Linked DNA regions of Homo sapiens. The protein of the gene in region 2 interacts with the protein of the main gene of each other region in a biochemical or structural test. Each region holds a gene or a part of one and is shown on either strand. Other genes may lie near its edges.

The links.
Region 1: the proteins of FCHSD2 (region 2) and CASK form a complex in vitro, tested with the Homo sapiens proteins (2 studies listed by BioGRID and IntAct, with this or other methods).
Region 3: the proteins of FCHSD2 (region 2) and MAGI1 form a complex in vitro, tested with the Homo sapiens proteins (2 studies listed by BioGRID and IntAct, with this or other methods).

What each region holds. Positions count from the first base shown.
Region 1 is NC_000023.11:41,918,953-41,929,526, reverse strand, and holds the start of CASK (peripheral plasma membrane protein CASK), read left to right. Parts: upstream 1-5,972; 5' UTR 5,973-6,538; coding exon 6,539-6,597; intron 6,598-10,574. UniProt on the Homo sapiens protein: Multidomain scaffolding Mg(2+)-independent protein kinase that catalyzes the phosphotransfer from ATP to proteins such as NRXN1, and plays a role in synaptic transmembrane protein anchoring and ion channel trafficking.
Region 2 is NC_000011.10:72,884,849-72,895,480, reverse strand, and holds part of FCHSD2 (F-BAR and double SH3 domains protein 2), read left to right. Parts: intron 1-5,535; coding exon 5,536-5,652; intron 5,653-7,906; coding exon 7,907-8,011; intron 8,012-10,632. UniProt on the Homo sapiens protein: Adapter protein that plays a role in endocytosis via clathrin-coated pits. Contributes to the internalization of cell surface receptors, such as integrin ITGB1 and transferrin receptor.
Region 3 is NC_000003.12:66,027,733-66,038,364, reverse strand, and holds part of MAGI1 (membrane-associated guanylate kinase, WW and PDZ domain-containing protein 1), read left to right. Parts: 5' UTR 1-56; coding exon 57-369; intron 370-10,632. UniProt on the Homo sapiens protein: Plays a role in coupling actin fibers to cell junctions in endothelial cells, via its interaction with AMOTL2 and CDH5. May regulate acid-induced ASIC3 currents by modulating its expression at the cell surface.

The DNA.
Region 1 (10,574 bases), on a different chromosome or scaffold from region 2:
CCTGGAGCTCTGGGTGCTACGTTGTTGCACCTAAGTAAGGATAAAGCCAATACCACAGAATGCATAATGTTGAGACTGGGAGAAAGTGGATCTTCAGTGATATTATTTAAGCCCTTGATCAAGCCTCACCTGAAGCTAGCATACATCTCAATTTTCAATTATGTAAGCCAATAGATTATTTGTATTTTTAAGCTTGTTTAAGTTTTCTGTCACTTGCAACTCAAAGAATCTGACACTGTGCTGTTTCCAAAGGCAATATTATTTCCACTGTCAAAGTTTCCAGTGACTTGTTCATTGATATTAAAGAAAGAAGGGCAAAATGAATCATTTTTATTTGTATGGTACTAGTACAATTTGTAACATGGATACATCGCGTAGTGGCAGTGGGGAAGTCTGGGCTTTTAGCACAACCATCACCCGAGTAATGTACATTGTACTCATTAAGTAATTTCTCATCCCTGACCCCCTCCCACCCTTCTGAGTCTCTAATGTCTATTATTCTATACACCATGTCCATGTGCACACATTATTTAGCTCTGACTTATAAGTGAGAACACGCAGTATTTGACTTTGTTTCTGAGTTGTTTCATGTAAGACAATGCTTTCCAGTTTCATCCATGTTGCTGCAAAAGACATGATTTCATTCTTTTTATGGCTGAAGAATATTCCATTGTGTGTGTATGCATATGTATGTATATATACCACACAAAATGAATCTTTAGACACAGGTTTGCGGGACTGGCACCAGAAGAAATTGGGAAGGAAACACATTTGTAATCAGGTCCTCTTCTGCTCCCTGGAGTGTTCTTTTGCATTTCTTATGCCTTCTCCACCCTATTGATGAGGTCAACCCTGGATCCTTTTTTCCAGAGAGCTTATTCAACAGCCAGTGTTAGGACGGTGGTTCTTAATTTTTAGGTGTACTAGACTTACTTGTGGAGCTCATAAAAATACAGATCCCTTAGGAGGCTGAGGCAGGAGAATTGCTTGAACCCGGGAGGTGGAGGTAGCAGTGAGCCGAGATTGCGCCATTGCACTCCAGCCTGGGCAACAAGAGCGAAACTCCGTCTCAAAAAATAAAAATAAATACAGATCCCTGCAACATGTTCCAGGAGATTCAGGTTCAGTATGTCTTGGGTGGGGCCCAGGAATCAACATTTTTAACACTTTTCATAAGCTTCCAGGTGATTCTGAGGCAGTTATCACTTGGAGAAACGCCATTGTCTTAGGATGGATTCCTCAAAAGCTGATCCTGATAGGGTATTCATGAGCAAGTGATTTAGTAAGGAAGTGCGCCCAGGAGAAACTTGGTAGGTAATGAGAGAAGTAGGAAAGGGAACCAAACAAGGGTCGGATTTCAGGCAAAGTCCTGGGAAGGGTACCTTCAGCCTGATCCCACAGAGGACCTCTGGACTGTAAGTAACCCCTCAGAGTTGTCCCCTCTTCCCCAGTCAAGGCTTTCATATTCTTGCACTATGGGTCATTGGCTAACAGCTAATCAACCTAAACTCCCAGGCACTTCCGCGTGGGCAAAATGATTCCAGTAGCTTGTGGGAAGTCCTTTGGAGTCACAGGTATGAACTTTGGAAGCAAAAATACACTGAAGCTGGAGTGAGGCACACAGAAATGGGAAAGGGGATCCGAGGGAATTTGAATGGAGCACCTACAGTGTCTGCTGAAACCATTTAAAGGATTTCATATTTACTACAGGAGTATCTGGATTTTTAAAAGCAAGGGAGAGAACAACATGCACCCAGTGCAAAGGGAATAATTACTTAAAAGTAGAATTCTGTTCATGCTTGGGGTTTCAGGGTAACTCAGTCTACACATAAGACTCTAGTACCACTGAAATCTGTAATCTTTCAGTGAGTGAACTCTTTAAAATGGTAATTGATGCCTTTCAGTGTCTGGCCCCTGCCTATTTCTCTAACTCCCTCTGGCCTCTTTCTTCCTATAGGCTATGATCTAGCCGTGACCTACTTCTCCAAAACAGCATATTCTTCTTCTAAAAGAGCATATGCTTGCTCACCTCCAAGACTTCAGAAATGTTGTTTTCTCTACCGATAATCAACTGGCCCCTACTCCCTTCACCTGATTAATTTCTATAATTTCTATAGTCTTGTTCTAAACATTTTTTCAACTGGGCCTTCCCCAACCCATAAGTCCTCTCAATATGTGTTCCCCATACTTCCTAAATCCTAACAAACATCACTCTTCAATGTAATTACTTGCCGACAACTTGTTTTCTTTTAGAATGAAGTTCAGAGAGGGCGGGAACCATTTGCAGCTATAGCCCCCATGGCTAACACAGACATTCATTGAATAAATATAAAATAAATAACTTGCAAAATGATATCAGAGTATAAGTCTAATATATGTAGCTTTTTCTGGAGAGAGGAAGGGTGTCTTTCATTTTAGCTTAGAACATCCTGTTTATACCGTGAGGCAATAACTATTCCAGTTGAGAACAGTGTCATTCTTAATTTTATTCATTAATTCAGTAATAATTTATATCCTTAAACAATCATACTATGGAGTGAGGCTGAACTCTAAATTGCCTAAATTAGCCCCGTGCCACACTGACCTCTGTGTGTGGCCCTCATGCTAATATTTCTCTGGAGTGTGTTTTTCCCTTGTATGTCTGTGTCATGCTGAAATGATGTGGGAGCCCGACAACCTGAGAATGTCTAGTGCAGTTGTGAGGAAAGTCCAAGACCTCGAAGTCACTGAAAATTTGCACTGACATCTGAGAATCAAATTTGTTTAGCACCAACTCCATCCTTGTGGGGTTTTAGATGTTTCTGAATTTTTTAAGGCCTATCAATTATATACTAGAGGTATAGCTACATTATGATGAAGACGTAGAACTGTTTTATTGGTAATTTTCCTAGCATTAGAAATCGGCCGGGTACAGTGGCTCAAGCCTGTAATCCCAGCAGTTTGGGAGGCCGAGAAGGGCGGATCACTTGAGGTCAGGAGTTCAAGACCAGCCTGGCCAACATGGTGAAACCCCGCCTATACTAAAAATACAAAAATTAGCTGGGCATGGTGTCAGGTGCCTGTAATCCCAGCTACTTGGGAGGCTGAGGTGGAAGAATCGCTTGAACCCAGGAGGTGGAGGTTACAGTGAGCCAAGATCGTGCCACTGCACTCCAGCCTGCTACCAAAGCCCATTTTCCCCCTACTTCTCCCTTGTCTACCTCCCAAGAGGAGGCAGGAGAAGACAAATATCCGTGTCCCCAGCTTCCCTTGCAGGTAAGTGTTGCTGCCTGTGACTCTGTCCTGGCCCGTGAGATGAGAAAAAGATATTTTCTTTCCCTAATAGATGAGAGACGGAGCAGAAAGGCCTCTCCTGTCCTTACTGCCCTCCTGCTTCCTCCCTTTAATGTCTGAAATTGCAGCAGCCATCTCATAATGATGAGGCAACAAGCCTGAGGATGAGATGCTAACATTACAAGAATGGCAGAGTGGAACGAATAAACCTAGGTCACTGATGACGCACTTGAATAGCTGATCAATGTTAATAACCACACATCTCCTTGCTACATGGAAAAGAGCACCCCGCCCCCTTGCATTTGTTTAAACCACTGTTAGTTGAATATTCAGTTGCTAACATCTGAACACAATCTAATAGATGCACTTACTTTAACATTTTCTTTGTGGAAACGAAAACAGAACCAAATTATTGACACCTGACTCACTAATACATGGGCTTATTTGTTGGAACAGTATTGGATTTTTGGAAGACACCCAGAGAAAAATTAATTTAAAAGGTTTGCTTATTTTAGTCCCCGAAGCAGAGAGGATCTACTTCTAACCATCATACATGGTACAACTTCTGAGGGATGTGTATTGCAGAGAATTTCTATATGACTAAATATTACACTGGGAACTGGGAGATCTAAGTACAGATCAGGAGAAAAAGTCCTCAGCTTTGTGCTGATTGGCAGACCTCAAACCACTCAAAGCTTGTGACCAGGGAGTGCCAAGAGCTGATTAAATTAGGCTTATCGCTGTGGCAAGGGGGCTGCATGTGTTAGTTTAATTAATCAGAGCCCACCTCTCCAGTAAAGATGGTTACAATCTCACCTCAAGTCCAGAGCTGCTACCCCATGGTGGGGGAGAGGGGTGGGATGGCTTTTGGGAGAGCAACCACCACATTCTTCCATCTGTAAGTGAGGGAGTCTCTTTCCAGATCCAAACCAACTGTGATCCTATGAGCAGAGCACTTACTTATTTTTGCAATCGTCTGTCTCTCTTTTTTTCACCTGCACTTTCTTTTCTGTTTTACTTTATGATTGTCCTTTTCTACCTCTGAGCATAGGTCCCTGTAGAAGACAACAAACCCCAAAATGAAGTCGACAAGGCTTGGTATAGCTCAGTCTTGGGCTGGGGAAAAGAAGTGAAGCTGACAAGGTGACTTGAGAGGGTCCCTGTGCACTTCAGGGCAGAATGGAGTGACGCCTTATTCATTAGACATGAGCTGGACATGCCAACTTGTGGTGAGTAACTCTTGGACCCTTAAAGGAGGCAATGTTTCTCAAGTTCTGAAGCCCCCGTCTCTAGAGAATGCACAAGCTCTTTGAGAAAGGAGGAAAACCGTGTGCAATTACACTTGTCCTCTGATCTGCATTTAAAAAAAAAAAAAAGGTTTAGTACCCAAATCCTTAGCAGGCAAATCTCTCAGCCTTTTGAGGGAGTGGTCAAGGGTTTGCACGAAACGTTTCTGAAGAGAAAATAGGCTGTGAGTCTCCACATCACCCCCTCCACTTTGGTATTAATAAATACTTTTTTTAAAAAAAATACTGCACTGAGAAATTTACCAGACGATTTCTGGAAACTGACTTATGAACTAATTGGGCACTTTTGCTGTGCGGAGGAACAAAGACACTATTGGTCTTCAACTGAGGCATATACCTGTCTGATGGCGCTGGCTCATTCCGCACATGCTCAGTTGAACAGAAATCTTCATATTGAATGCAACCTAGCACAGCGGCAACACCCAGAACCTCACTCCCTGGCTGCTCCTGTGCCTGCACTCCCTCTAGTTGCATTCTGTTCCTGACAAGTCTAACATTTATAGGGAGTATAGAGAGCAGAGTAGGTCCTGGGAGTTTGAGGACAATATACAAATGAGCTTAAAGTCACGGTTTGTCCCTGCCTTCCTAGCTTCTCTCTAGGTTGGTCTCTAGTGAGGGTAGGCGCTGGATAGATATTTGTTGAGTTTGGGGCAGAACGTGGGAGAAGCTGTCTCTATAGATGACCGTTTGCTGTCGCACACCTTCCTAGGCAGTTTTTGTTTAGTCCTTTTCTTGGACGACCTCCCCTTACCCCCAGCCCTCATCTTCATTAAGGAATGACAGGGTAGCACTAAAAGCATCCGCTGCCAAGCACGGATTCAGTGACAACCTCTCTCCACCTCTCTTTTAGCTTTCTCATTCATTAGCACCCTTTCCCTGCCTCTTTTCCCAGCAAAAAACTGGGAAAGGCTCCCTGCGATTACAAAAGAAGGAAAGGGGAGCGGCCAGAGTTTCGTGCCTCTTGCCGGACAACGAGCGTGCAGCCGTGGACCTTTTGTCTCCAGCCCCTTTCGCGGCTTGGTCGCGGCTAGGCGCGGAGGCGACGACCCCAACCAGCCCCGCCTCGGCAGCTGCAGCCGGCGCGCCCCACTCAACCCCCCGCGCCCTCTAGAATCCCGGTGCCCGCCCGTTCGCCGTGACGCGGCCGGCGCCCCGCGCATGCGCCGCTCGGCCCGCTCCCCTTTCCCTGGGCCACCGCCTCCCGACCGGTTGGAGTGGGCGGAGCCTGTGGTTCTGGAAGCCGCGCCGCCGACGGGGGAGGAGGGCGTGTCTGCGCGAGGCGGGTGAGCGGGGCTGGCGAGCCGGTCGGCTGCTGAGGCGTAGGGGCGGAGCAGAAGGCGGCGGCCGCGGCTCCCGCCCGCACAGAGCGCCGGTCCCGCGAAGCCCCCTCCCACTCCCGGGCGGGCGGTGGCGGCTGCGGGAGGAGGAGAAAGAGGAGGGAGCGTCTCTGCCGCCGCCTCCTGGTCCCCAGCGCCGATCCGCCGCCGCCGCCACCTCCCTCCGCGGCGATCCTCGCTCCATGGTCCTGCCGCGGCCCCCTCTGTAGCCCGAGCTGCTCCGCGACGCGACGGAGCCGGCCTCGGACAGAGGGAGCGGTCGCGGCCTCGCGGCCCGCGCGGGCTGACGAGCGGAGAGCGCGACGCCGCGCGGTCCCCGAGGATCCGCACGCCGGGCAGCGCGGCCCGAGCAGCGCGAGAAGCAGCGGGCGGGCGGGCGGCGCCGGGCCCGGGCCGCCCTCGCTCCCGCGCCCCGGCCCCGCCGCCCGCGCCGGGGCGGTCGCCTGCAGAGGAAGGCGCCGCAGTCTCTGGGCCTCGCGGCCCCACTCGAGCGTCCTCGGCACCGAGGGCTCGCGGGTCCTGAGGGGAGGAGGCGATCCCGGGGCTGGGCACTGAGCTCTTGGGCGCCCCCACCCCCGTTTTCGAAGCCCTCCACGCTGCGGCCGCTATCCCCTCCGGACCATGGCCGACGACGACGTGCTGTTCGAGGATGTGTACGAGCTGTGCGAGGTGATCGGAAAGTGAGTCTCCACGCGAGGGAGCGGGAGTGTGGAAAAATGCATTTCAGTGATGCCCCGGTCTTCCCGCACCCGCTCGGGGCCTGCCCCCTGCCCTCCCTCCTTCCCCTCTTCCCCTCTCGTCCTTCTCATCCTGGAGTATTTATAGACGTGTACCTGGAGCTCCTGCCAGGCGGGGGCCTGGGGGTTCTCAGCGGTCCATTGAGGCCACCGAGCCGAGGTTGGCCACCCCGTAAGGCGTGGGGCCGGCTGCCTGCATTTTATCTGACGGTTGCACAGGGACGTGGCACAGCCGATTTTATAGTTGCTTCAGTTGGGGTTATTGTTACCTTGCATGTACCATAGACCATTTTTGAAACAGAGCAGCTTGCATTTCCTTTGCTTGTGTGGTGAGAGAGTCCAGGGTTTTAATTGTGGGGTGTGTGTCTATTGTGCGGGATATTAGACAGATGCCTTTGTGTACACCCCATGCTCGGATTGGAGGGGGTCATTTAAGACGGGGTGCTTTCAGTTTCAGCAAATTCCCTCCTGGTGTACACGAACGTGGAAAGAGTTGGGGGCATTCGAATTTTTAATGCCTTGTTATGCAATGACTGTTCAATCAGTGCTCGAGACTCCCCTCGACTGTTGTTGGGATGGTGGTTAGCGTGGTAGAGCCGTCTGCTTTGAGTCACCGGGCTGGTCTAGAATATAGAACTGACAGTCCAAATGCTCATCCTTTCATCTGTGTTGTATAATTACGCTGGGGAAAAGCAGGGAATCAGATTAATCACAGTGCTGATTGAGAATTAAATCTGCAGTTCCTCATCTAATTGTCCATTCCTTAAATCTATTTTGAATAGTTTCCTTTTCATTCTTGTCAAACAGTACTCCAAGTGCACAATCCTGCTAATTTGCTTGTGAAGGAAATGCTGGCAATCTGAAGTTGATTTCCTAACACAGCGTGTATTCTGCGGCTTTAGAAGTTGAGGAGATAAGATTTAAGAGCAAATTTTTGCTTAATAAGGATCGCTAGAGCTAACATTGAAATATCTTACCTCTTTTTTTTTTTTTTTTTTTTTTTGGAAGCGGTGCTTTATTGTCTATTTTAAGGTCCACAGTTGGGAAATGAAACCAAGACCTTAAAGCAGTTGGCCCTATCTCTTTTAAGTTGTCTGCAGTACTCAATTTCAATTTGAGTGCTAATTTGTTTCCTTTTCTTTCCATATTGAGGTATTACAGTGTTGCCTCACATGGTGAAATTGTGGGTAGAGCTTGCTACACACTTTACTCAGACCCAATTGATGTGAGGACATGTTACTCCTTGCCCTATTGTTACATGACCAGCCAGACTTAAAAGGAAAGTATCCAAATGTGTCCTGTTAAAGTGCTTGTGGAAGTGTTCTAGAACAGCACTGTCCAAAAGATATATTATGAGCCACATTTGTAATTTAAAATTTTCTAGTAGCCACATTTAATAAAAACATACAGGTGCAATTAATTTTAATAAAATATTTTATTTAACCCTGTAGATCCAAACTTAACATTTCAACATGTAATCAATATGAAAAAATATTAATGAAATATTTTACATCTTTTATGCTAAGTCTTTGAAATCCCAATGTGTATTTTACACTAATAGCACATCTCAATTCTGACACTAAGCTACATTTCTGATGAAAATCAGAAATACTTAATCTGTATTTAGGTTTCATAAAATTTGCGTTTGCAAAAGTATATTCACATACCCAAGTTGTTCCCAATATACATAAAAGTTTTCCAATAACCGAATCAAGTACCTTTTTCTAAATTTAAATTTTAATTAATTAAAATTAAATACAATTCAAAATTCAGTTTCCCAGTCGGACCAGCCACGTTTCAGGTGCCCAGTAGCCACATGTGAATAGCACAGTTCTAGAGAGAAAAATGCATCAAAAATCTCCTTGGTTTCCTCATTCTTAGGAGCACCCAGTGAAGATAAATTAGGTGTTTCCCAAAAGCCTCCAAATGACTGTATGTGTGGGTGAATGATGTTTGTTGCATCTTAGTTATAGCTGATGTAAATGAACTAACAAAGTCATAATTGGAAAATGTGAGATTAAAATGTTAATTATATTGTGAAGATGTAAAATAGCCATCTCTGAATCAGTTTTGGTAACTAGTTCTGATTCCTTAAAGTCTGGAAGGGTGATGATGTGATCTCTTTGGATATCAAAAAGAAATGGTCAGAATCACATTAACACAGTCCATATTCTGCTGATTTGTAATTGATAGAATATTTTTCAGGAAACACCCCTGGGAGAAAAAAATTCATCTTTTCTGACTGTTTCAGAGCTGCATAAAGAGGGGCAGCAAGCTAATTTTGAGGTGATAGGTACTCTATGGCTACCTTAACTACTATGAACTGTGAAATCTCATTCATATCCTACAAAATCTGACTTGGTCAGTGCCAATTATAAAATGCCATTATGTGAAATAATGAATTCAAGCTAGCCTTATTGTTAAAGAATGTAATAATAGTGTTCCTCAATCTGAGTAAAGGTTGAAGGTTTCTCTAGTAAATTGTCTTAGTATATATTGATCTGGAAATTGAAATTAGCTTGAGATTTTCTTGCAGGGACCTTGACAGCATACATTTTTAACTTATAATTTGTTCACCTCTGAATTTGAACAGAAAGCCCTTGAAGATATTCACATGTACTGAAAACCTTTTTATTGATTTCTATCCAAGTTCTATGGAATTTTGATTTTCTTTTTTACCAAATTAGTATCACAAGTTGTTTTTCACCACTAGATCTTAATAGGTTTTAATTTTTACTAAGGTACTTTAAAATAGATTTCACTTTTCAAGACTAATTGACTACCCACTCACTCCTCTACCTACGCAACCACCTACTCACTCACCCACTGTGTACTTGGCCTTACTTGATGGCATAAATGAAAGTTCTCGTTTAATTTAGACCCTTCAGTGTGTTTTTTTCCCCCTTGGTTGAGAAAGATAACTTACAGAGTTAATGAGGTTTTGAAATATAAGATCATTATTTGGAATATGTTTTCTTTCCAGTGGTTGCAGCCTTTACCCTTGTTAAAGCTGTCTTTGAGGGAACATGTGCCCAATTTGTTACAAATATTGGAAGGATGCCGTTTCCCTTTTTAAAAATTAAAACTCTTTTCCCTGTGTTTCTCATTTTTGAAAATCTTGCAGAAACTCCTTTGAGTGACTGTTGGTTCTATAACATTTTCTATGTAACTATCTTTTAAATGACTGAAACAAATCTCCAATAATAAGACCTTATCATAGTCCCAAAACTTCTTGTCTTAGCAAATGTAGCGATTACTGGAAAGGAAGGGCGTTATGCAAATGAGGTTAATGACTAATTTTTATGTCATGATCATTTACTGTATCTTTTACAATTATAAGTAAGTGTACAACCGGTAATACTACATGAAGGAAATTTAAGACAATTCATCGAAATTAAAACATAGAAAAATGCCTACTTTCTTGGTACAGCAGTGTGTATGAAAGGGAATAACAAAATACATACCATTTTTACCTTGTGTTAGGTGAATACTTGCCCTGTTTAGTAGCCTGTAGCTTCAGACTTTCCTGCTCTGGTAGGACATACACTAAAATTGGAATGATGCAGCATGACCCTTGCTTAAGGATGACGTGCAACTTTGTGAGGCATGCTGTATTTGCTTACTCCTCGAGAGCACTTTTATTTAATTACAGTTACTTATTTATGGATCTCTCTAGTTCACTAATAAGGAGCTTCCTGAGGGCAGGGAATGTTTCTTACACATCTTTCTCCATTAACACAGTGCGTGCAATGTAACTGCCTTTCATTAGCTGTGGAATGAATTGAGTAGTTTTAATAAAATCTCATTAAAAGGCAAAAAAGCATGTTTGTCAACCTCAGAGCAATTATTGTCCGAAGAGCCTGCATTAGTTTAAAGTAGTGGTTCTCCACCTGGCTGCATATTAGAATCATCCGGGGAGC
Region 2 (10,632 bases):
ATAAAGGCATACTCTTTATAAGGCTGTTCCATCTAACCATGCCTCTAGGTATGTTCTCAAAAGTGTTAGACGCAAGGTTTTTATGCCATTTTTGTTTTACTTTCATGTCATTACTCAGGGACATATTTTTTGCTAAGGTTTGCCTTTGGTACTCTTAATCCAAGACAAAAGAATAGCTCCTTTCAGAGTTCTCATCATTTCTTCACCCCAGCCTTAATGGGTATATTCCTTTTCCCCAGGTGTCCAGAGTTTTCCAGAATTGTCCCAAGGCTCAGTCCACACCAGTTCTTCTCCAGTGTGCTCTCCTGAGAGGCCAGGCACACTCAACAATTATCTAGATGAGTTCCCACTTCTTTCCAAGTGAAGGTTCTGCTATCCTAGCATAGTCAGAATAAGTTAAATTATGTCTCTTAAGAGGCACTGTTCCACTCCTCTTCAAGGTGTGTGGCATATTTGAAATATGTGACTTAAAAGTCTACAGTCTCTTACCAAAAGCCTTGGGCCAAATACATGTCAAAATTCAGAATTTTCCAGATTTTAGAAAAGTGACCCATATACCATACATTGCATAAAACCCTGAGCAATGTATGGGGAAGCACCTGTGACCAAACATAGTATTTTTGCAGTGAAACATATGAATATTTTCATTCATATATGTATATATGAAAGAAAAAACTATAAATAACCTCTTATTAGTTCAAATCACATTTTGGCTCAAGTGAGTTTTGGCTCCAAACTTACCAAAAAATACTTATTCTTTTTCAGAGCATTTTGAATTTCAGAATTGTGGGATTGTGAACCTGTACAAACGTGTAGTTGGAATACAGAGATCCAGATGCTTTTTACTTGAAGAAGTCCTTTTGAGGATAAATAATTAATAACTTTATTGAAATAATTAACCATATATTAATATACTTCATAAAGAATAAGATGGATCCAATATTTAACTCAATATATTAATATATATTTTTTGAGAAGCTCTGTCACCCAGGCTGGAGGGCACAATCATAGCTCCTGGCAGCCTTGATCTCTTGGGCTCAAACAATCCTCCTGCCTCAGCCTCCCATAGATAGGACTACAGGTATGTGCTAATTTTTTTTAAGAGCTGGGGTCTAGCTATGTTGCCCAGGCTGGTCTCAAACTCCTGGCCTCAAGCAGTTTTTCTGCCTTGGCCTACCAGAACACTGGGATTGTAAGTGTGAGCTACTGTGCCCAGCCCCAGTATATTTCTTGTCTCTCAGTAAACTGAAAAATGTAAGTAGTACAAATTCCCTGAATGAGGGTTAACTAGAATGTTATGCCATTGGCCTAACAACCCCAACACTATCTTTTTTTGAAATGGTTTGGAATGCTAGTATTTTACTGTTAGTGATTTTCATTCATCATACATGACCATCTCTTTTTCTCTCCTTGAAATGGTTATATTTTAGTTACAGAGTTAAAAAACTGATTGTTTTCTTCTGCGAAGTCAGCTTTTCTATCGCTGCTCACTCTGCTCAGATATCTGAGCCTTCTATGCCTTTGTATTAACCTTAAAATAAAACAAAATCATATCTTGAGAGAGCATCTAAGGACAAAATAGTTAAGATGACTTAAAGACTAATATATCAAGAATATTGGAATGCTGATTTCCTTAATTTAGTTCTTCAAAGTTATTTAATAACTTTATGAATGTTGAAAAGACTTTATTGTAATATTTTATTCTAAAGGGACTAGAGTTTTTTTTTTTTTTGGAGACAGAGTCTCCCTCTGTAGCCTAGGCTGGAGTGCAGTGCCACGATCTTGGCTCACTGCAACCTCCGGCGCCACCACGCCTAGCTAATTTTTGTATCAAATACATTTTTAAAAGATAAAGGAAAAATATTGGGCTGGGCATAGTGGCTCATGCCTCTAATCCCAGCACTTTGGGAGGTCAAGGCAGGAGGATCATTTGAGGCCAGGAGTTTGAGATGGCCTAGGCAACATAGTGAGATCTCATCTCTACTAAAAATCAAAAAAATTATCTGCGTGTGATGGCATATGCTGTGGTCTCAGCTACTTGGGATGCTGAGGTGGGAGGATTGCTTGAGCTTGGGAGGTCAAGGCTGCAGTGAGCCATGATTGCACCACCGCACTCCAGCCTGGGCAATAGAGTGAGAACCTGTCTTCCAAAAAGAAAAATGTTAAAAGAATGATCTAGGCCAGGCGTGGAGGCTCATGCTTGTAATCCCAGCACTTTGGGAGGCCAAGAACAGGTGGATCACTTGAGGACAGGAGTTCGAGACCAGCCTGGCCAACATAGCAAAACCCCCATCTCTACTAAAAATACAAAAAGTTAACTGGGCATGGTGGTACATGCCCTGTAATCCCAGTTACTCCGGAGGCTGAGGAATGAGAATCTCTTGAACCCGAGAGGCAGAGGTTGCAGTGAGCTAAAATCATGCCACTGCACTCCAGTCTGGGTGACAGAGTGAAACTCTGTCTCAAAAAATTAAAAATAAAAATAAATTTGCCAGCATTTTAAAAAGAAGCAGTCATTACGGTTTCTTTGTTAGAATCGACCACTGCTAATATCACTGTCTTAAAAAAAAAATTACCAGCCACGCACGGTGGCTCACACCTGTAATCCAAGCACTTTGGGAGGCCGAGGCGGGTGGATCACGAGGTCAAGAGATCGAGACCATCCTGGCCAACATGGTGAAACCCCGTCTCTACTAAAAATACAAAAAATTAGTTGGGCATGGTGGCACATGCCTGTAGTCCCAGCTACCTGGGAGGCTGAGGCAGGAGGATCACTTGAACCCAGGAGGTGGAGGTTGCACTGAGCTGAGATCATGCCACTGCACTCCAGCCTGGCCAACAGAGTGAGACTCTGTCTCAAAAAACAAAAAACAAAACAAACAAAAACACAAAAACATAATTATCTATACTAGATCCTGATTTATATTGATCTTTGATAGTGAAGGTGGTATTGGAACATTTCTCTGTGTATTGTTTAATAGCCTGGGCTGTATTCACCTTGTATGAAATTCTCAGTTGTCAAGACCTGTGTCTCAGGAGCTTCCACATGTATTCCATGGCTTGATTTCAGAATTCATGAAAAGGATAAATTAATTTGAGTTTTAGTTTTGTGTCATTCCCTACCCAAAGGATCTCAAAGCCACATCTTCCAATCAGTGGCATTAGTTACCTGTCCTGATCATTGGACTCCCAAGTCTTAGTAGACACATAAAAAATAAGGGAAAAGCTCTATCCTGAGCACAGTGAATACTCAATAAGAAGGTATAAATTCTGTAAGGCAAATTGGGTTATGGCCCATCTGCAGCCAGCACACAATTTAAACCCCTTTACCTATTCCTAAAATGCTGCTCAGTAACAAAAATTAAATGTCTCTATCAGTTGCCTCCTTTCTCATCTAGCTACTCCCTACAAATTCATTCTCTTTGAGATCTGCCTTAATCTTTCAATATATCTTCAATCTTCATTTTGGATTCATTGTTTAGGCTATTAAGAACCTAGGAATTATCTGGATTTTCTTATGAACAGTAATAAGAAAATTTTTGTTTCAAGTAATTTTCAATTGGGTCTTTAACATTAACAGTTACCATTACTGGATGCCTAAGATATTATGTAGATCCTATACCAGAATGTTTAAAATATGACCTCATTATAACCTACCAACCCTATGGAGATAGGTGACATTTTCACTAGTTTTCAGATGTAGCTACGACTCAGATAATTAACATGCCCAAGATCATAAAGCTAGTAGTGCCATAAAATGGCATACAATGGATTCAAACTAAGTCTATCTGACTCAAAAACCTATTCTTGGACTCTTCAGAATTTATCTTTCTACTTTTACAGATCACATTCCTCTGACTTTTGTATATTTCATTTGTATCTGTGTCCAGAGTTTAACACTTTAATATTCCTGACTTTGAGAACAGATGTAAGTTTGAATGCCCAGATTCATTTGCAAAGCAAAATATAATAGTAAAGTTCATTCCCAAACTTCTGATAACCCCAAAAATGAATTAGAATGTAAAATATGAATGTAAAGATGGTTAAGTTTGAATATTGATTATTTTGCTCTATTTCAATTTATTTGTCATTGTTATAATCTAGCTGAAATGTCTGTATAGAACAAAAATTTTTAAACCCTGCCTCATCACAATTCCCCCAACAAAAATATTAATTTTTAAAATCCAGTTTATCAATTTCTACTTACTCTATCAATTTTGAGCTATGAGACCTTGCAAAAGAATTACTAGGCCAGGTGTACTGGCTCATCCCTCTAATTTGAACACTTTGGAAGACCAGGGTGGGAGGATTACTTGAGCCAAGGAGTTCAAGATGTTGAACTCCTATGTTGCCTGGGCAACATAGTGAGACCTTATCTCTAGAAGGAAAAAAAAAAATGAGCTGAGTATGGTGACACACACCTGTAGTTCCAGCTACTCAGGAGGCTGAAGTGGGAGAGTCACTTGAGCCCGGAGGTTGAGGCTGCAGTGAGCCGTGATCAGAATTTCTAAAATTCTTTTCATTCTACAATTTTGCTGCTTTCTATATTAAAAGCCTCTTTGGGTAATTTATATTTTAAAAAAAATTCCTAATTATCTCAATAAAGTTTGTTTTTCTTGGGTCTTTAAGAATTTAGAGAGAATTAAAATAGTTTTGTGTTTAATAGCTCTGATTCTGGAATCGGTCAATTAAGGTTGTAACATTTAACATCTAGGACATCCAGGAAAAATTAACCTCTCTGAGCCTCTGTTTTCTTTTCTATAAAATGATGTGGGACCCACATCATCAGGTTGTTAAAAAAAAAAAAAGTTATATGAAGCACTTTCCATAGTACCTTGCACAATAGAAGTTAGCTATTACTATTTTTATTTAGATTTTGTGGTTTGTTCTTTGTAAATCAGAATCATAGCATTTTAGAGCTAGAAGAAACCCTTGGTGATCATTTGATCTAGCACCCTTATCTTTCATATGAAGCCTGGAGAAAGAGCAAAAGCTGGCTTTTGAGGTTTGGTGGCAAGTTGATGGTGGACCTCTAAAGAGTTCCGTCTGCCTTGGGGCAGGGGGAGGGGTGCAAGATTGTGTTGCTGTTATTATATTGTTTTGTTCTTACTTCTCTTTAATGATTCTTTACTCACATTTAAACTATTAAGTTGTTTCCATTTTTATTTATGCAATGATTTTATCACCATAGTAGGTTGGCATGAATACATTTTCTTCTTTGCTTACCTTAGCTAGCTTCCTTCCCACTCGGAAAGATAAGTCCATCACACCCAAAAAGATAAGTCTGCAGTATTATAGATGATGCTTTTGTGTTCAGCAGTGTAAGACAAAAAGCTTATGGTCTTTAATGGTTTTATGCTGATCTTACTCTTCTGGTAACTTTCTGTGACGTTAAGACATTGCTTCCAGCAGTAGTGGAGCGTGCCTCATGTTTTGAGTGCTGATTAAGTGAAGGCCTTCTGATCCATCTACAAAGCAGTAGTGGTTACAATAAGGATAGCAATATTTTTATCTCTGTTCTCTCTTGTATTGTAGAGCCGACAGTTAGAATCAGAAACTGGGACCACAGAGGAGCACAGTCTAAATAAGGAAGCTCGAAAATGGGCCACACGTGTGGCACGTGAGCATAAAAACATTGTTCACCAACAACGGGTAAGTGTAAGAGAAAGTCCTAGTTACATTCACCTTAAGCCAAATGTCAAACAGTTTAAGGAACTGAGTTTTATTAATGTGAAAAATATCCTATATGTGTTGTTTTGTTTTATTTGAGACAAGAGGCTTGCTCTGTCACCCAGGTTGAAGGGCAGTGGTGTGAACATGGCTTACTGCAGCTTCAACCTCCTGGGCTGAAGCAGTTCTCCCACTTCAGCCTCCCAAGTAGCTGGGACCACAGGCACATGCCACTATGCCTGGCTAAATTTTTTTAGATTTTTTGTAGAGATAGGGTCTTGCCATGTTTCCCAGGCTGGTCTCAAACTCCTTTGCTCAAGCATTATATGTGTTTTTTCTGTACTTTCTCAACACTCAGCAGTGTGCTGTCAGCTATCTACTCATGTTGGAATTTCCTTAAGCCCTCCATCAGCAATACATTAATTTACCTGTTTACCATAAAATTAACAAAGAAAATTGTGATAGTGTATTATGGGCAGGGGAAGAGACATATGTTGAATTAATATAAGTTTTCATCCCTCAAGACATATTTTTTAAAAGACATAATTATAGCCGGGCGCGGTGGCTCACGCCTGTAATCCCAGCACTTTGGGAGGCCGAGGTGGGTGGATCACAAGGTCAGGAGATCGAGACCATCCTGGCTAACATGTGTTACGGTGAAACCCCATCTCTACTAAAAATACAAAAAATTAGCCGAGTGTGGTGGCGGGCACCTGTAGTCCCAGCTACTCGGGAGGTTGAGGCAGGAGAATGGCATGAACCTGGGAGGCGGAGCTTGCAGTGAGCTGAGATCACGCCACTGCACTCCAACCTGGGCGACAGCGAGACTCTGTCTCAATAAAAAGAAAAAAGAAAGACACAATTATAGATTTCATGAAAATATATGTTTGGCTGGGCGCAGTGGCTCACGCCTGTAATCCCAGAACTTTGGGAGGCTGAGGCAAGTGGATTGCTTGAACCAGGAGTTTGAGACCAGCCTGAGCAACATGGCAAAAAACCCGGTGTCTACAAAAAATTCAAAAATTAGTCGGGCATGGGGGCGCACACCTATCTTCCCACCTATTCGGGAGGCTAAGGTTGGGGAGAATTGCTTGAGCCCGGGAGGTGGAGGTTACATTGAGGTAAGATCATGCCTCTGAACTCCAGACTGGGTGACAGAGAAAGACCCTGTCTCCAAAAAAAAAAAAGAAAGAAAGAAAGAAAGAAAATATATCTCGAAGACTAAACTCTAAGCACAAAGAAATTATTTGGAGTATAGTACTTTTTTTCTGTTTCATTTATTGATACCTATATCCGTCTCATTCTTTGCCTTCACATCCTGCTTCTTAAAAGAATTGCCTATGCTTATTATCTATAGAATCTCACCTCCCACTTACTTTTTAGCCCATTACATTTGAGCTTTCCTGTCCTTTCCTTCCCCTGTCTAAGCTTACCAAAATCGCCAATGATGTCTGTGTTGCTAGCTTCCAAGTGGACACTTTGATTTCTCATTTTTCTTAATCTGTCAACAATTTCATCACAATTAACAATTCCATGTCTTAAAATGTTATCTTCTCTAGTCATCCACGATTCAACATTGTCCTGGCTTTCCTTCTGCCTTTCTGGCCATACCTAGATTTTTTCATGGGTTCCTCTTTCTCCATCCCACAATGAAATATTCAGTTTCTCAGATTCCTATACTTGGCTATCTTGTTTTCTTATTCTTTACCCTCATATAGGCATTCTCAGTCACTTCCATGGTTTTACTTTACCACCAAATCATAAATTAACATCTTCAACATTGGGCCTTGCTACTACTGTGTATCCATATAATCTCTTGCCTGTTTTGACATCTTCTTTTCACTATCTCACAGGTGTCTCAAATTCAGTGTTCCACTTATGTAATGTTGCTTAACAAACCACCTCAAACTTAATGCCATAGAACAAGAGGGTTTTTACATTATCTCTCACTAATCTGAGTATTGGATGGTCTCAGCTTAGCAGTTTCCCTTGGGGTCTCTCATGTGGCGGCAATCAGATAGTGGCTGGTCCTGGCTTCCCCACTGAAGGGACTGTCTGTAGTAAGTTTGTTACTAGTAAGTCTATAATTATTTCAAAATGTTCAAAAAATAAATAAATGAAAAAAAATTATGGCTACTAGTCACTAAAGCCCTTTGAATTATGTAAATACTTTAATCACTTAAGGAAGATGAAAAGTAAAAAACAGTCATCATTATTGTCCCATTTTCTTTAATAGGTTCTAAATGATCTGGAGTGTCATGGAGCTGCTGTATCAGAACAAAGCCGAGCAGAGCTAGAACAGAAAATAGATGAAGCTAGAGAAAATATTCGTAAAGCAGAGGTAAGGTGGCAGCTAATTGTGGCATTTTGCCCAGGTCTAATGACACTGTCACAGCTGTGATATACATCTTTAAAACTGAGTTTCTACACACACTGAGATGAAGGTGATTCACCGTCTTCATTCGTGTCCACAGTAGTATTTGTTGAGTACCTGCTCTGTGGAAGGCAGTACATATAACAAAAAGATGCTGTAAAGTTTACAGTCATGAAACATTAAATACAAAAGATTTAAGTCACAATGAAGATACTAATTTTAAAGTTTCTAAAAGGTACATAATAAACCACAGAGATTAATGGTAGAAAAAATGATGTATATATATCAATTTAGATATATATATATATCTCCTTATATATCAATATCTATGGAGACATATATTCATATATATATATATATTTTCAGAGCTTAGGAAATCTCCCCCATATGGAAGGTTCCCTGGATCCAGGGGCATGAGCTGGGCTTTTAAGAATAGGGAAGATTTGGCTAAGCAGAGATGGGAAAAAATTTATAATAGTGGATTTTAATTTTTTGTGGAGTCATGGGACCTTTGAGGGTTGTATGAAAGCTGTGAAACATTCTCTCCCACACACAAAAATGTACATTTTGTGTAGTGTTTAGAGTTCTTATGCCTGAGGCTAATACTCCCTGCTCTAGATAGGGAGAGGTTGGGATAGGAAACAAGAAAGTATTAGCAAAGGAGGAAGACACAGAGTATAATTTGGTAGCTGGATATGATTAGAGTGGAGGATTTTTGTGAGGAAATGTGGTAGAAAGTAAGTAAACTTGTTGTGGTTAGGGCCAGTTTATGGAGGACCTGTGCACACACTTTTATCTACTCAGCAGCAATGTGGTGAAGGGGTATGGAGGTAGACATTTATAAAAGACTGACACCATCCAGCCATTAAAAGATTAGGTTCTTGTTAGAAAGGCATAAAGAATGCCAAAAATCACTAAGATGGTAAAGCATAACTGCCGAGGAGTGGTGCATTAAGTATAGTTGAAGAACCCAGAGGCCACAGAAATCACTCTGGGAGGGATTGTTGCGGGTGTAACACAGAAGAAGACTTAAGATGAATGCTGGCAGATGAATAGTATTTGATTAGTCAGAGAAAAGGGGATAGCACAGACTTATGCCATGCAACTTCAGGAGGTAGAATTTGAACCAAAAGATGAAGGTAGGAAAGAAGGAGATGTGAGTTTAGTATTGGGAAATACTTTCTAATAGTCAGATCTTCCCAAAGACAGAATAAGCACTCCTGAGACATAGTGCAGCCCTATAAGTATGTAAGAAGATTCTGGGCAAGCATCTTTCAGGGACCCAATACAAGGAATCCCTGCACTGGTTTAGGTTTAAACTAAACTAATGGTTTTCTAACACCCCCTTAGAACTCCAGAGGTTTTGAGGAAGTGCTTCACTGGTTGTGGGGTGAAGGGAGAGGCAGCGTAGGCAAGCATAGAGAATATGAGCATGTTTTTGGTACAGCCCCATGGAAGTGATCTGAATCAGAACAGGCTTGCCATCTGCCTGGGCTGGAGAAACCCCAGTAACCCCACCTCCACTTCATTCCTGTTCACAGTCTAATTGACAGCCACCATAGTGAGGAGGGCAGGGTGTACAATGAATAGTCATTTTTCTCTTTGAATTCAGGGTCATGTCTAAACCACTATCTTAGGGTGCTGGCCAAGTAGTGTTGGCAAGCCCTCATCTACTCTAAGAAACACTGGCCTGTGGTAGAAGAGTTATTCCTGTTGTTTGTTTCTCCGCACTCTAGATGAAGCCAGTTTTTCAGAGCCTTGGTGGAACAGGAGTAATTATTTTAAGACAAGTCTCAGAGGTTTTCTGAGGGGTATTTCATGTATTTTCCATTTCCAGACCCCATGCATGGTATCACCGACTGGTACCCTAACTCCACGAAACCTCCCGCCATCCCCAGTAGTAGCAGTAGTAGGTATCAGGCACACAGAGTCTTCATTTAGGCCAGATGACCTATTATTTCCATAGTATGCCAAACTAGACTGTGTTTGTTAGTTTCAAACTAAAAATATGAAGTGAAATTCTCATACCACGATGTCTCACCTCTTCTAATGCAAGTATTTAAGTCTACATTCTCAAAAATAGTTTTCTTATCAAAAATGTTGAATATAGTATGCTAAAACCATTGTAGCAGATCCGTTTTCTCAGTTTTGAATATCTGTAGCATTTAATTAATTTTACTGTTAGCATAAAATAATCTCACTTGGTTTCCACTTAACAGATACAAAAAATAGCCTAAGTAAAATTAGCCAGCAAATATGAGGGCATATTTATTGGGGTAGTACTTACAGGATTATCATAATAAAATTTTTGGATGGACTAGACCATGAGAGTCTTCAAAGGAATTAACAATAATGGTTTCTGCACATACCCTTTTCCTTTCTTCTGCCTGTATATCATTTGCAGTGGTTTTTCGTTTTTATCGATACTTTATTTATTATAAATACCTATACAAAAGAGAGAACACTGGTTATATAAAATGTGAGTCCTCATTATTGCAAAGTTAATGACAAGAGTGACCCTGCTATTAAAACAAAATTTTTAGGCCAGGTGCAGTGGTTCATGCCTCTAATTCTATCACTTTGGAAGA
Region 3 (10,632 bases), on a different chromosome or scaffold from region 2:
CTGTGGGGGGCACCTGTCTCTCGTTTTATTTTTTTGGAGGAGGGGTGTAACTCATCATGTCCAAAGTGATCCAGAAGAAGAACCACTGGACTAGCAGGGTTCACGAATGCACCGTGAAGCGGGGACCCCAGGGCGAGCTGGGGGTGACGGTGCTGGGAGGCGCGGAGCACGGGGAGTTTCCGTACGTCGGAGCGGTGGCGGCGGTCGAGGCAGCGGGGCTTCCCGGCGGCGGCGAGGGCCCGAGGCTGGGCGAAGGGGAGCTGCTTCTGGAGGTGCAGGGGGTCCGGGTGTCCGGCTTGCCCCGCTATGACGTGCTGGGGGTCATCGACAGCTGCAAGGAGGCCGTCACCTTCAAGGCCGTCAGACAAGGTAAGGCAGGGCGCGCCTTTGGGGGGCGCCCCGAGAAAAGGAGGGTGGTCTGTGGGCTGCCCCTTATTCTCGATTTCCTGCTTCCCTCCTCGGAGCGCAGTGAAGAGAAGTTGAGGCCGTGCGCCCTGTGGTGGCGGTGAAATACACAAAGTTGTTGCGAGGTTGAGGGTTGTTTGCCCACCTGCGTTTCGAAGAGGGGGCTGGGTTTGCGCAAGGTAGCGGGGGGACGTTTCTCAGGCCTGGCTGGCCAACCTGTTATCTCCGCCACTAAGTGCAGCGCAGTCTCGCCTGCACCCGAGAGAGAGTTGGGGAACTGAGTCAGGGGCATGGTGGACGCTGTCCTGGCTCCTTGGGGGAGGGATGCAGCTGGCGTTCTTTGGCCACGAGTCAGTTTCCATACCTGCTGAGTGGGTATACAGAAAGAGAGGGTCTGTAGTTTATTGGACCTCCCCCATCAGAAAATCTGCTTCACCCCGCGACCCCTCCAGGTGAGCTAGGACACCACTGCCTGGCGGTTCCTGAGCCCGCCGCCAGAAGAGCCTGCATTCACCCCTCAGCCGGATGACGCATGTGTCTCCACCGTGTGGCTCAGCCATACACTTGGGAGGGGGAGAGGGGGAAGGGGTGCTTGCTTTTAGCTCGAATCGGGTCCAAGTTTACCCTCCCACCACCACCATCATCGTCATTATTGATGATGAAAATGAAGCTACTATTCATTGTTGGTTTACTACATGCCCGGCTCTGTGTAAAATACTTTACTTGCACTATCTCACTCCGATTCACAACAGTTCTAAGAACGAGTTGTTCTTATTTATATACCCCAAATTAGAGATAAGGAAACTGGGATTGATACTGGTTAAGTGACTTGCTCAAGGTCACACAGTTGCCAAAAGCGAGGGTTTGAGCCCTTGCTGCAGAGCCTTAAGTATGGAGGAGGAAGGAGTGGGGGGATGACCCTACCGCACTGAAGGGGCTGATTCCTGAGGAGGGAGTGGAAGCAAATTCCTCTCTCAGAAATCTGTAGAGGCCTTTTAAAAGATGCATTTGCTGGCTGCTGGTGATGTAGGTCCCTTACATCTCACTTTGGTACAGACAAGGGGCTGTCCTCATGTCAACCCAATGGAGACCAGCTGAGGCCCTTAAAGGGCTCCCTTGTGCAAGCAAGTGCCATGACGCAGGTTCTCCCCAGTGAAAGCACCGAAGGAAGTCGTGAAGTTGAACATGGTGAAAAGTTCCCATGTGTTTCCATAAGGACAGGCAGCAGCTGGAGGAATGTGTCAAAGGAAGGGCTGGGCCTAGCTGGTCCTCTCTTGGAAACAGGCGTGCTCCAGATGAAATGGAGGAGGGGGCGGCCGACTCGCCTGGCCTTTTAGCAGCTTTGGGAGCTGAGGAGCTGACACTTAGCTATGGAAAGCTCCTTGTATTTATGACTTCATTCTCCACTGGGATACCTCCTCCAAGAAGCCCTCCAGAATCCTGCTAGGATGCACAAATTCTTCCTCCTTTGGGCTCCTTTAATGTCTACTTTGTGGCTTTTTTACTTACTCTGAACTCTGAGTTAGGTCCTCATTTCCATACAAGGTAGTGAGCTCATTAAAGGGAGAGATTGTGCCTCATTCCTGGCATACCTCTCCAGGTTTTGCTTGAGGTTCAAAACCTTTCCTGGCCTGACAATGCGTCTTCCTCACACTGGCTTTCCTGTGGGTATTACATAAGCTAACACGTGGAAAGTGCACCCAACAGTGCCTGTACATAGTAAGTGCTCCATAAAGATTAGCTATTTATGTTTGAATTGATTTTAGCAGCTATTTATTTCTGAAACTAGTTTTTAGTGTCAGGAACCTGGATAATTATGACTTGATAGGGCTGTAGAGAAAATACTGTGTGAAGGCATAGGATGGGAGCAGCTGCAGGTCTCAGTTCAGGACCATTTTGGAGAAAGGGTGGAGGAAGGACAGGCAAGGGTACCTGCCCAACTAGGGGGATGCCTCGCAGTGTCTAACGGGTCCTGAATAGGGGCTGGCTTGCAGTGTTTGCAGTGTGCAAGATGCTGCATGGGCTTGTGTCTCTTCCTTCCACTAGTTGCCAAATTTCTGGGAGGCGATGTCCCAGGGCTCTCTCATCATGGAGTTTAGGAAGGCTTGGTGAGATAATCAAGTGGGTTTGGAAACAGACACCTCTGAGTTGAAAGGAAACTGTAGTGTCTCCAGGTGTTAGCTCTCTTCACCCCTTGTGCACAGATTGTTCACAGCAGGGGCGAGTGTGTGGGTATGTTTCTGTGTGTGTGTGTATATGTATGTATGGATGGATGTACGTGAATCTACTTGTAATGGGATAGAAATATGATACTGATTGGGAAACCTGAATGGCCTGGAATTCATTGCAGTCTGAAAGTGACTATTTCATGTAATAATTACACAGGCACAGTTGGATCTTCTGACGTCTTCATTACCAGTAATGATGGCCCTAGAAACCATTTCACCAGTTTTCTGCTCCCTCTTCCATGTTGAGAATATGATTTAGATTGTATGACAGAATTGCTCTTAATGTGTCTTCATTACTGTGCCTTTTAAAGTCATATCAAGCAGGCTCATACTTGGTATATGGTAAAGAAAAATACTACTTTTGTGTTGTTTGCATCCCAAGTTAGCCACTTCCAGGGACACAGATCACTCTGGATACTGTCTACATGGTGGGAGAAAATTCTGTTTTTCTACTTCATGGCAGTTCTCTGGAAAGATACATGGACCAAAACTGTCTGTGACAGGACTGGATTGTGCAGGAATCAAACTCAATGGATCTGCCAGGTTGGACTTGGTTCATTTTAAATGGAGAAGACAGTCCTTTGTCAGGTTGGAGTTGGTTCATTTTAAGTGGGGAAGACAGTACTTTGTCATAAAATGCCTTTACAAAGTTATATATAATTATGTGTATTCAGGTATCATTTACCTATAGTAAAATGCATATCTTAGATATATAATTTGATGAGTTTTAAGCGATGTATGCACTCATGTTAATCACTCAAATGAAGATAGAGAACATTTTCATCACCCCAGAAATTTTTCTCATGTTCCTGTCCAGTTAATTCCCCCCTCCCCCTGCACCATAGATCTACCATAGAATAATTTTGTCTTCAACTTCATAAAAATGAACTAATGCAGTATGTACTCTTTTGTGTTTGGCTTTTGTTACTCAACAAAATATTTTGGAGATTTCGTTTTGTTGCATGTGTACTTCATTTGGTTCTTTTTTTATTGCTAAGTAATATTCCATTGTATACACATACCAGTTTGTCCTTTTGCTTGTTTATGGACATTTGGAGTATTTACCATTTTTTACTATTACGAATAAAGCTGTTATTAATGTTTCAGTTGCTCTACATCTTTGGCCATCTTTGATTTTGTTTGTCTTTTGAATTTTAGCCGTCCTAGTATATGCTTCGGAAAAATGTAATTAAGGAAACTTTGATACAGGATATAAGATGTCGCTAGTATGTATTAAGATCTTGCCTTAGAATATAATAGGTGCTTGGCTAAGCTGATGCTTCGTGGGCATTCTCTTTTTCAGTCCTTACAATTGGACTCAGATGTTAGAAGCTGAGGTTCAGAGAATTTGGGTAACTTTTCCAAGGGTCATACCACAGTGGCAGTAGAGCTGCAACCCAGCTCTGTCTGATTCCAAAGCCTGTGCTCCCAATTCCTGGGACAGTAGGTCTCCAAGTGAGGTCCTCAGACCAGTGGCATTAGTATAGTAACCTGGGAACTGGTTAGAAATCCAGATTCCTGGGCCCCACCTTAGTTCTACCAATTCAGAAGCTTTGCGGGGGATGGGGTTGGGGTTGGGGGGTGGGGTAACAACCATGGGGTGTTTTAATAAACCCTCAAGGGATTCTGATGGGCTTATTAAGGGATTCAAGGGTTCAGTTTTAAGAACTACTGTACTAGGGTATAGACCAAAATTGAGAAGATGACATCAGATGAGACAGGTGACCTGGGTTCTAGAATAAGCTCTGCCAGTCACATTCTTGGAGCCTACATTTCTCTATGCCAAAAATAAGTGGGTGAGCCTCTTCAGGTTATTTGTGCTCGTGAAATCCTTTGTTTCCATGAATCACCCAGACTCCAAAGGTTTAAAATGGTATGATTGTAGTTTCCCAAAGTGGTGTATTACAGGTCATGCTTACATATTTTTGCAGGTGAATTTTGTGGTTTTTCAAATTACCCAGGAACTGTAACTATCCCTCTACTTTTTGTGTATGTGTGGCAGTGTGGAGATAATAAAAGAGATACAATTTAAAAGCCAAACCAAACCACCACCAGACCCTTCCCCTCACTGTAATGAGGGAAATTGTGATCACATATGGTTGAATATAGTTCTTTGTGTGGTTTTTTGTTTTGGTATTGTTTTGATTCATTGGAATGTATGACAATAACTCTCATTTTAAAACACAGGGCCTTGTCTTTCAGAGTTGTTTGGTTTCTCATGAATCTCTGGTCTTGCTTCTTTCTCCTCAGTGACCTCCTTCTGGTGTGCTGTAAAATGCTTAACAACCAGTGCTAGTAGTGGGTAGACCCTGATTTATAGCATAGCTGGAGTTGGGAAGAGACGCGTATACTTGCTGTTCCCAAGCCAATGTGAGCTGGCCCCCACACACCACTGACTGCATATAAGATAGTGCCCTTGTGGTGGCTCACCTGTAATCCCAGCACCTTGGGAGGCCAAGGTGGGTGGATCACTTGAGCTCAGGAGTTTAAGACCAGCCTGGGCAACATGGTGAAGTCTCTACCAAAAAATACATAAACTAGCTGGGCGTGGTGGCGAACTTCTGTAGTCCCAGCTACTCGGGAGGCAGAGTGGGAGAATCGCTTGAGACCAGGAGGCAGAGGTTGCAGTGAGCCAAGATTGTACCACTGCACTCCAGCCTGGGTGACAGAGTGAGACCCCCATCTCACACACACACACAAAAGATAGCTCCCTGAGTAAAGTGCCATTCCCTCACCCTGTTTGTTCCTTCATAGCCTTGACACAATCTCGTATTATCTTCTGTTGTTGTTGTTGTTGTTTTTTTTTTTTTTTTTTTTGAGATGGAGTTTCGCTCTGTTGCCCAGGCTGGAGTGCAGTGGTGCGATCTCGGCTCACTGCAACCTTTGCCTCCCGGGTTCAAGCAATTCTGATGCTTAGCCTCCCGAGTAGCTGGCATTATAGGCATGTACCACCATGCCTGGCTAATTTTTTGTATTTTAGTACAGGTGGGGTTTCGCCATGTTGCCCAGGCTGGTCTCTTGAGCTCAGGCAATCTGCCTGCCGCCTTGGCCTCCCGAAGTGCTAGGATTGTAGGCGTGAGCCACCGCAACGGGCCCTGTTTCTTCTTTATTGTCTGTTTCCCCTCCCATGAGAATAGAAGTTCCATGAAAACAAGAAGCTTGTCTCTCTTGTTCACTGCTGTATTTCTCAGTGTCTAAAAAAGACCCAGCAGGGCCAGGCGTGGTGGCTCATGCCTGTAATCCCAGCACTTTGGGAGGCCGAGGTGGGTGGATCACAAGGTCAGGAGTTCAAGACCAGCCTGGCCAAGATGGTGAAACCCTGTCTCTACTAAAAAAAAAAAAAAAACAAAAAAATTAGCCGGGCGTGGTGGTGGGCGCCTGTAATCCCAGCCACTAGGGAGGCTGAGGCAGAGAATTGCTTGAACCCGGGAGGCTGAGGTTGCAGTGAGCTGAGATCGCGCCACTGCACTCCAGCCTGGGTGACAGAGTGAGACTCATCTCAAAAAAAAGACCCAGCAAATAATAGGTGCTCACTAAAATTGGTTGGATGCCTGAATGACTATTCCATTGTTTCGGAAGGTAAGTGCAACTAGGCCACTTGCAACATCTTTCCTCCCTTTCTCTCGATTTGTCTTTTACTTCTTGTTTAGGATCCAGAGGTCTTCACTTTCTCGTAATCAGATCTTCCAATTAGCAGGCTTTCTGTGTCTAATAATTTATACTGGGCTATAAATGACTGACAAGGATTAATGAATCCTATTCAAGTATTTCTGCCTGTTGACTCTAACTGAAGTTTAACAAGTGAGCCTCTAAACGTGAAATTTCAGATGTTCAGCAGGCAGGATGATGAGGATTTTTTTTGTTGATGTGGGACCTGTGTCCTCATGCCTAAAAATGATTCTTTCCCTCCGTTTTCTTGCAGCATTGTCCCTGTGTACTTTTTTTTTTGGCTAATAGCAAATCAGATCTTTGCTACAGAACACAATCCAATTTTAGCCCTCTCGCTCTTAAATTGTACTTTGTATTTATGTCTTTTTTTTTTTAACTTAAACTTTCAAAAATCAACCTGTTTTTGTTCTTGGTGCCAAAAGACCACTCTTGGAAGGATATTTTTAGGTTACACTGTGGAACACTGTACAGGTTTTACAAAAAATGAAGCAAGGACGTACAACGCACTTGTCCATCGTTTCCAGTGGCCACCCCTTGTCATTGGCTGTGTTATTTAAAAATAGATTAACTTGACCTTCTGTGGCAATGGCATACAGTTGGCTCACCGTGTTTCTTGGCATTCATTACCCAGCTGGTTTTAGATGGCAGAATTGATGATATCCACCAAGGGGAATTAAGTGGTTTATAAGAGAAAACATTCTGACATCTCCTTACCACAAGGGTTTACATGAAGGATGTTGCTTTGTAAACGAGGGTTATTTAATGCAAAGCACCACTCTCTGGTGTTAGTGGCCCTTTCCTTGAGTTTGTATATACAAGTAACAGGATATACTGATTTTGTATACACTGAGAATAAAGGCTGTCAAATTCGTTAAGGGCTGACATTCACATCCTAAAAAAGTAGGTTACTGCATGCCTGCCTGTCTTTTTGCAGCTCATATGTGAGATCTGTAACCTTGAAAAATCCCTAGTACACACTGGTGCATTGCTAGACTTCTCCCCTATGGAGGTCGGCATCGATGTAGTATTTCTTATGAATTCATTTTGTTGTTTCAACAGATGTCAAGGTTGGTCCTATCATATTGACTCTGCTTTCTAGTTAAGTGTCCTGTGGAGGGTCTAATGTGTTCTGGATGTCAACTTTTCCGAAGGCATGTAGCAAAATTAGAAAATGTAATTTGAGCAGTGTCTTTTATGATTAAATAGAAATCTTCTCTTTTTATGGCTCAGTAATTACATAATGGAATAATCCATTATTAATCATTTCTGTAGTCTCTGTATCTGAGTGAAAGCCGAAGTCCTTATAGTGACTTCCAAGGCTGCCCGTGACCTGTCCTAAGGATATTACTTCTCTTTCTCTGTCCTGCCTGCTAGTGCCCACCTGATCATCTTACAGGCTTGCTATCTCTTGAGCTTCAAGTCTTTCTGAAATGTCACCTGCCCAGTGAGGCCTCTTGTGAGCACATTATTGAAAACCATAACTCCACTGCCACGTGTCATTCCCTGTTCCCCCTCTCAGCTTTATTTTACTCCATAGTATGTAGATCGCTTCACCACAAGTAAATTTCTTATTTTACCTCTTTCTCTAGAATGTAAGCTCTGAGATGGCAGGAATGTTGTCTTGTTCTCCCACAGTATCCCCAGTAGCAAAAACAGTGCATGGTGCCTAGTACTTGCTTGGGTATTTGTTAAATGTTTACAGTCAAGTTTAGAACTAGAATAAATCTCTTCTGAGGTCAGTTACCTCTGAAAATGTAGATATATAGAAGTCCCTGAAAATTTAGGTGACTGATGATGGATCACATTAAAGTTGGTTAGAGTTTAACATTTACAGTCAATGGCTGGGGCTAAAATAGAGCTTAGCCGATTGATCCAGGAATATTCTTAAAGTCAGTGAACATTGCTGGCCTGCTTCAGTTGGTCTTAGTATTATGGGTTTACAAGTAAGAACATGTGGGTCCTTGGTTTCTTGTCAAGAAGGGGAGGGAAGAGTCCACTGGAGTCTCCTTGGAGTCAGAGATAAGGTCACATTTCCAATTTTAGGTTTCCCTGCATGGAAGAGGTCCTTGACTTTAAAATTAATTGAGTGTCCTGATTTTCAGAGGTTACTTTGATTTGGGAAATGACGGTAACAAGGGGTACCAGGTGGCTGATCCAAACAGGAGAGCTGAGGCTACTAGAGTCACCATGAAGATCTTGTCGAGTTAGGGATAGGTCTGTGCACAGCATCCCTTACTTAGCCAAGTCATTGGCCTCAGTCCACTTTCAGTCCTGTGTGCTCCCCACCAACATGAATCCCTAGAAGGCAACTCTAGGTCAGGATTTGAATGCACAGGGCTTATCTGGGAGGTGCTCCCAGGAAGTTCCAGTAGGGCAAGGAAGAGGTGAGACCAGTGAGTCAAGAAGGCCAATGGAGATGCTTTAAAGAGCAAGTCACCACTGTGTGTCTAAGGCAGCCCCATGCTGAGTGTGTCATGGAACTTTGCAGACTCTCTCACCCCTAAACAGACTGAGAGGTTCTTCTGGCTGTGTGTATAGACTTTTTCTGTTACCATCTCCAGTGTCATGAAGATGAGTTCCATAAGATAATTACATTCTCATGGCTAAGGTATCAACCCCACCATTACTGTGGATGGAGGCATTTGTGTGTCTGTTTAATGGGCCACAGTTATGCTTCTTACAATAAGGATAATCTTTACTCCTTTATGAGACAAGACTCGAGGCTCTCTTTATGGACAGGGGCATGATGGTGCAATTAAAAGGCGATCGTGCCCTGATTATAAGCCATGTTTCAAAATTACTGCTATATATAGTGTCATCAGGACCGTAGTACTGCTCATAAAATGATCCACAAATAGCAATTTACTGATGTGTCATAGAGTCAGATTTTGGACCCAAGGTTGGCTTGGGTGAAGAGGCAGGCTTTACACTTTATGAGCTGGGTGTTCTGGGGCAAGATGCTGAACCTCTTTGTGCCAGGTTTCCCCCTCGGAAAATGGGGATAATAATGATACCTACTCTCTAGGGTTGTTGGAAAAGTAGAAAGTAAACCACATGACACAGGGCTTGGCACATAGTGAGTGCTCAATAAATGTTGGCTTCTGTAATTGTTTGAATGCTCCCCATTTGAAAGCCCTTGGGAGAGAAGAAAGAATCTCTTGAGAGATGGAGATTGCAGTGTACAGTTCTCTGGAGAGCTTTTCAAGTCTAGAAAAAAAACACTCTTTTTTCTGCTTGATTCAGATGCTGCCTTTTTGAAAGGCTGAGACTGGATTAGTTCAGACAAGTAGGAAGGAAGCCTCCGGACCTCACGGAGGTTTGAGTTGCCCGAGTTTCTCCCACATTGTCCTCGGTGAGGAATTGCTTTTAATGATTGTTCGCAGGTCGCAGGTTGTGGTAGTGTGGAGGGAGGGCGAGTTCTTGCGTGTTCAGGCAGGCTTTTACCATCAACGATGATTCTTGAGAATGGGACTCTGTGGTCCTCTCATCTTCCTGGTACCACGTCTGGGCTCCTACATCAGGAATGGCTGGGGAAGCAGTGGGGCTTAGTGGTCATAAGGGTTTGGAGTCAGACCGCCTGGGTTCAAATCCAGGCTCTCGCACTTCCCAGCTGAGAGACCAGGGACAGGTTAGCCTCCCAGAACATCAGTTCTCCCAGTTGAAAATGAGAATGTTACCTGTGTCATAAAGTGGTTGTAAGGATTAAATGAGATAATGTATGTAAAACTTGTACTACCCTGCCTGGCTCTTAAGTGGTGCTCATTGAAGTACCTACCCTACAAGCAGCTGTGATCTTTTCTTTTCTTGATCTCAGCTCACTGCAACACCCACCTCCTGGGCTCAAGCGATCCTCCTACCTCAGCCTCCTGAGTGGCTGGGACTGCAGGCATGCACCCACCACACCTGGCTATTTGTTTGTTTGTAGAGATGGGGTTTCACTACATTGCTCAGGCTGGTCTCGAGCTCCTGGGCTCAAGCGATCTGCCTGCCTTGGCCTCCCAAAGTGCTGGGATTACAGGCATGAGCCTTCGTGCCTGGCCAGCTGTGATATTTTCAGCTGAGAAATGGAGGTACGTCAGTTAGTGCCTCTGAATCAGTGGTTCTCAGCTGGGGGCAAGTTTGTTCCCCAGGGGACATTTGGCAACGTCTGGAGCCATTTTTGGTTGTCACAATTAAGGAGAGGGTTGCTTCTGGCATCTAGAGAGTAGAGGCCCGGGACCCTGCTGAACACCCCACAATGTACACAACAGCCCCTCAAGGGAGAATTATCCAGCCCAAAATGTCAGTAAGGCTGAGGTTGAGAAAGCCCCTCTACAGGCATGACTCCATG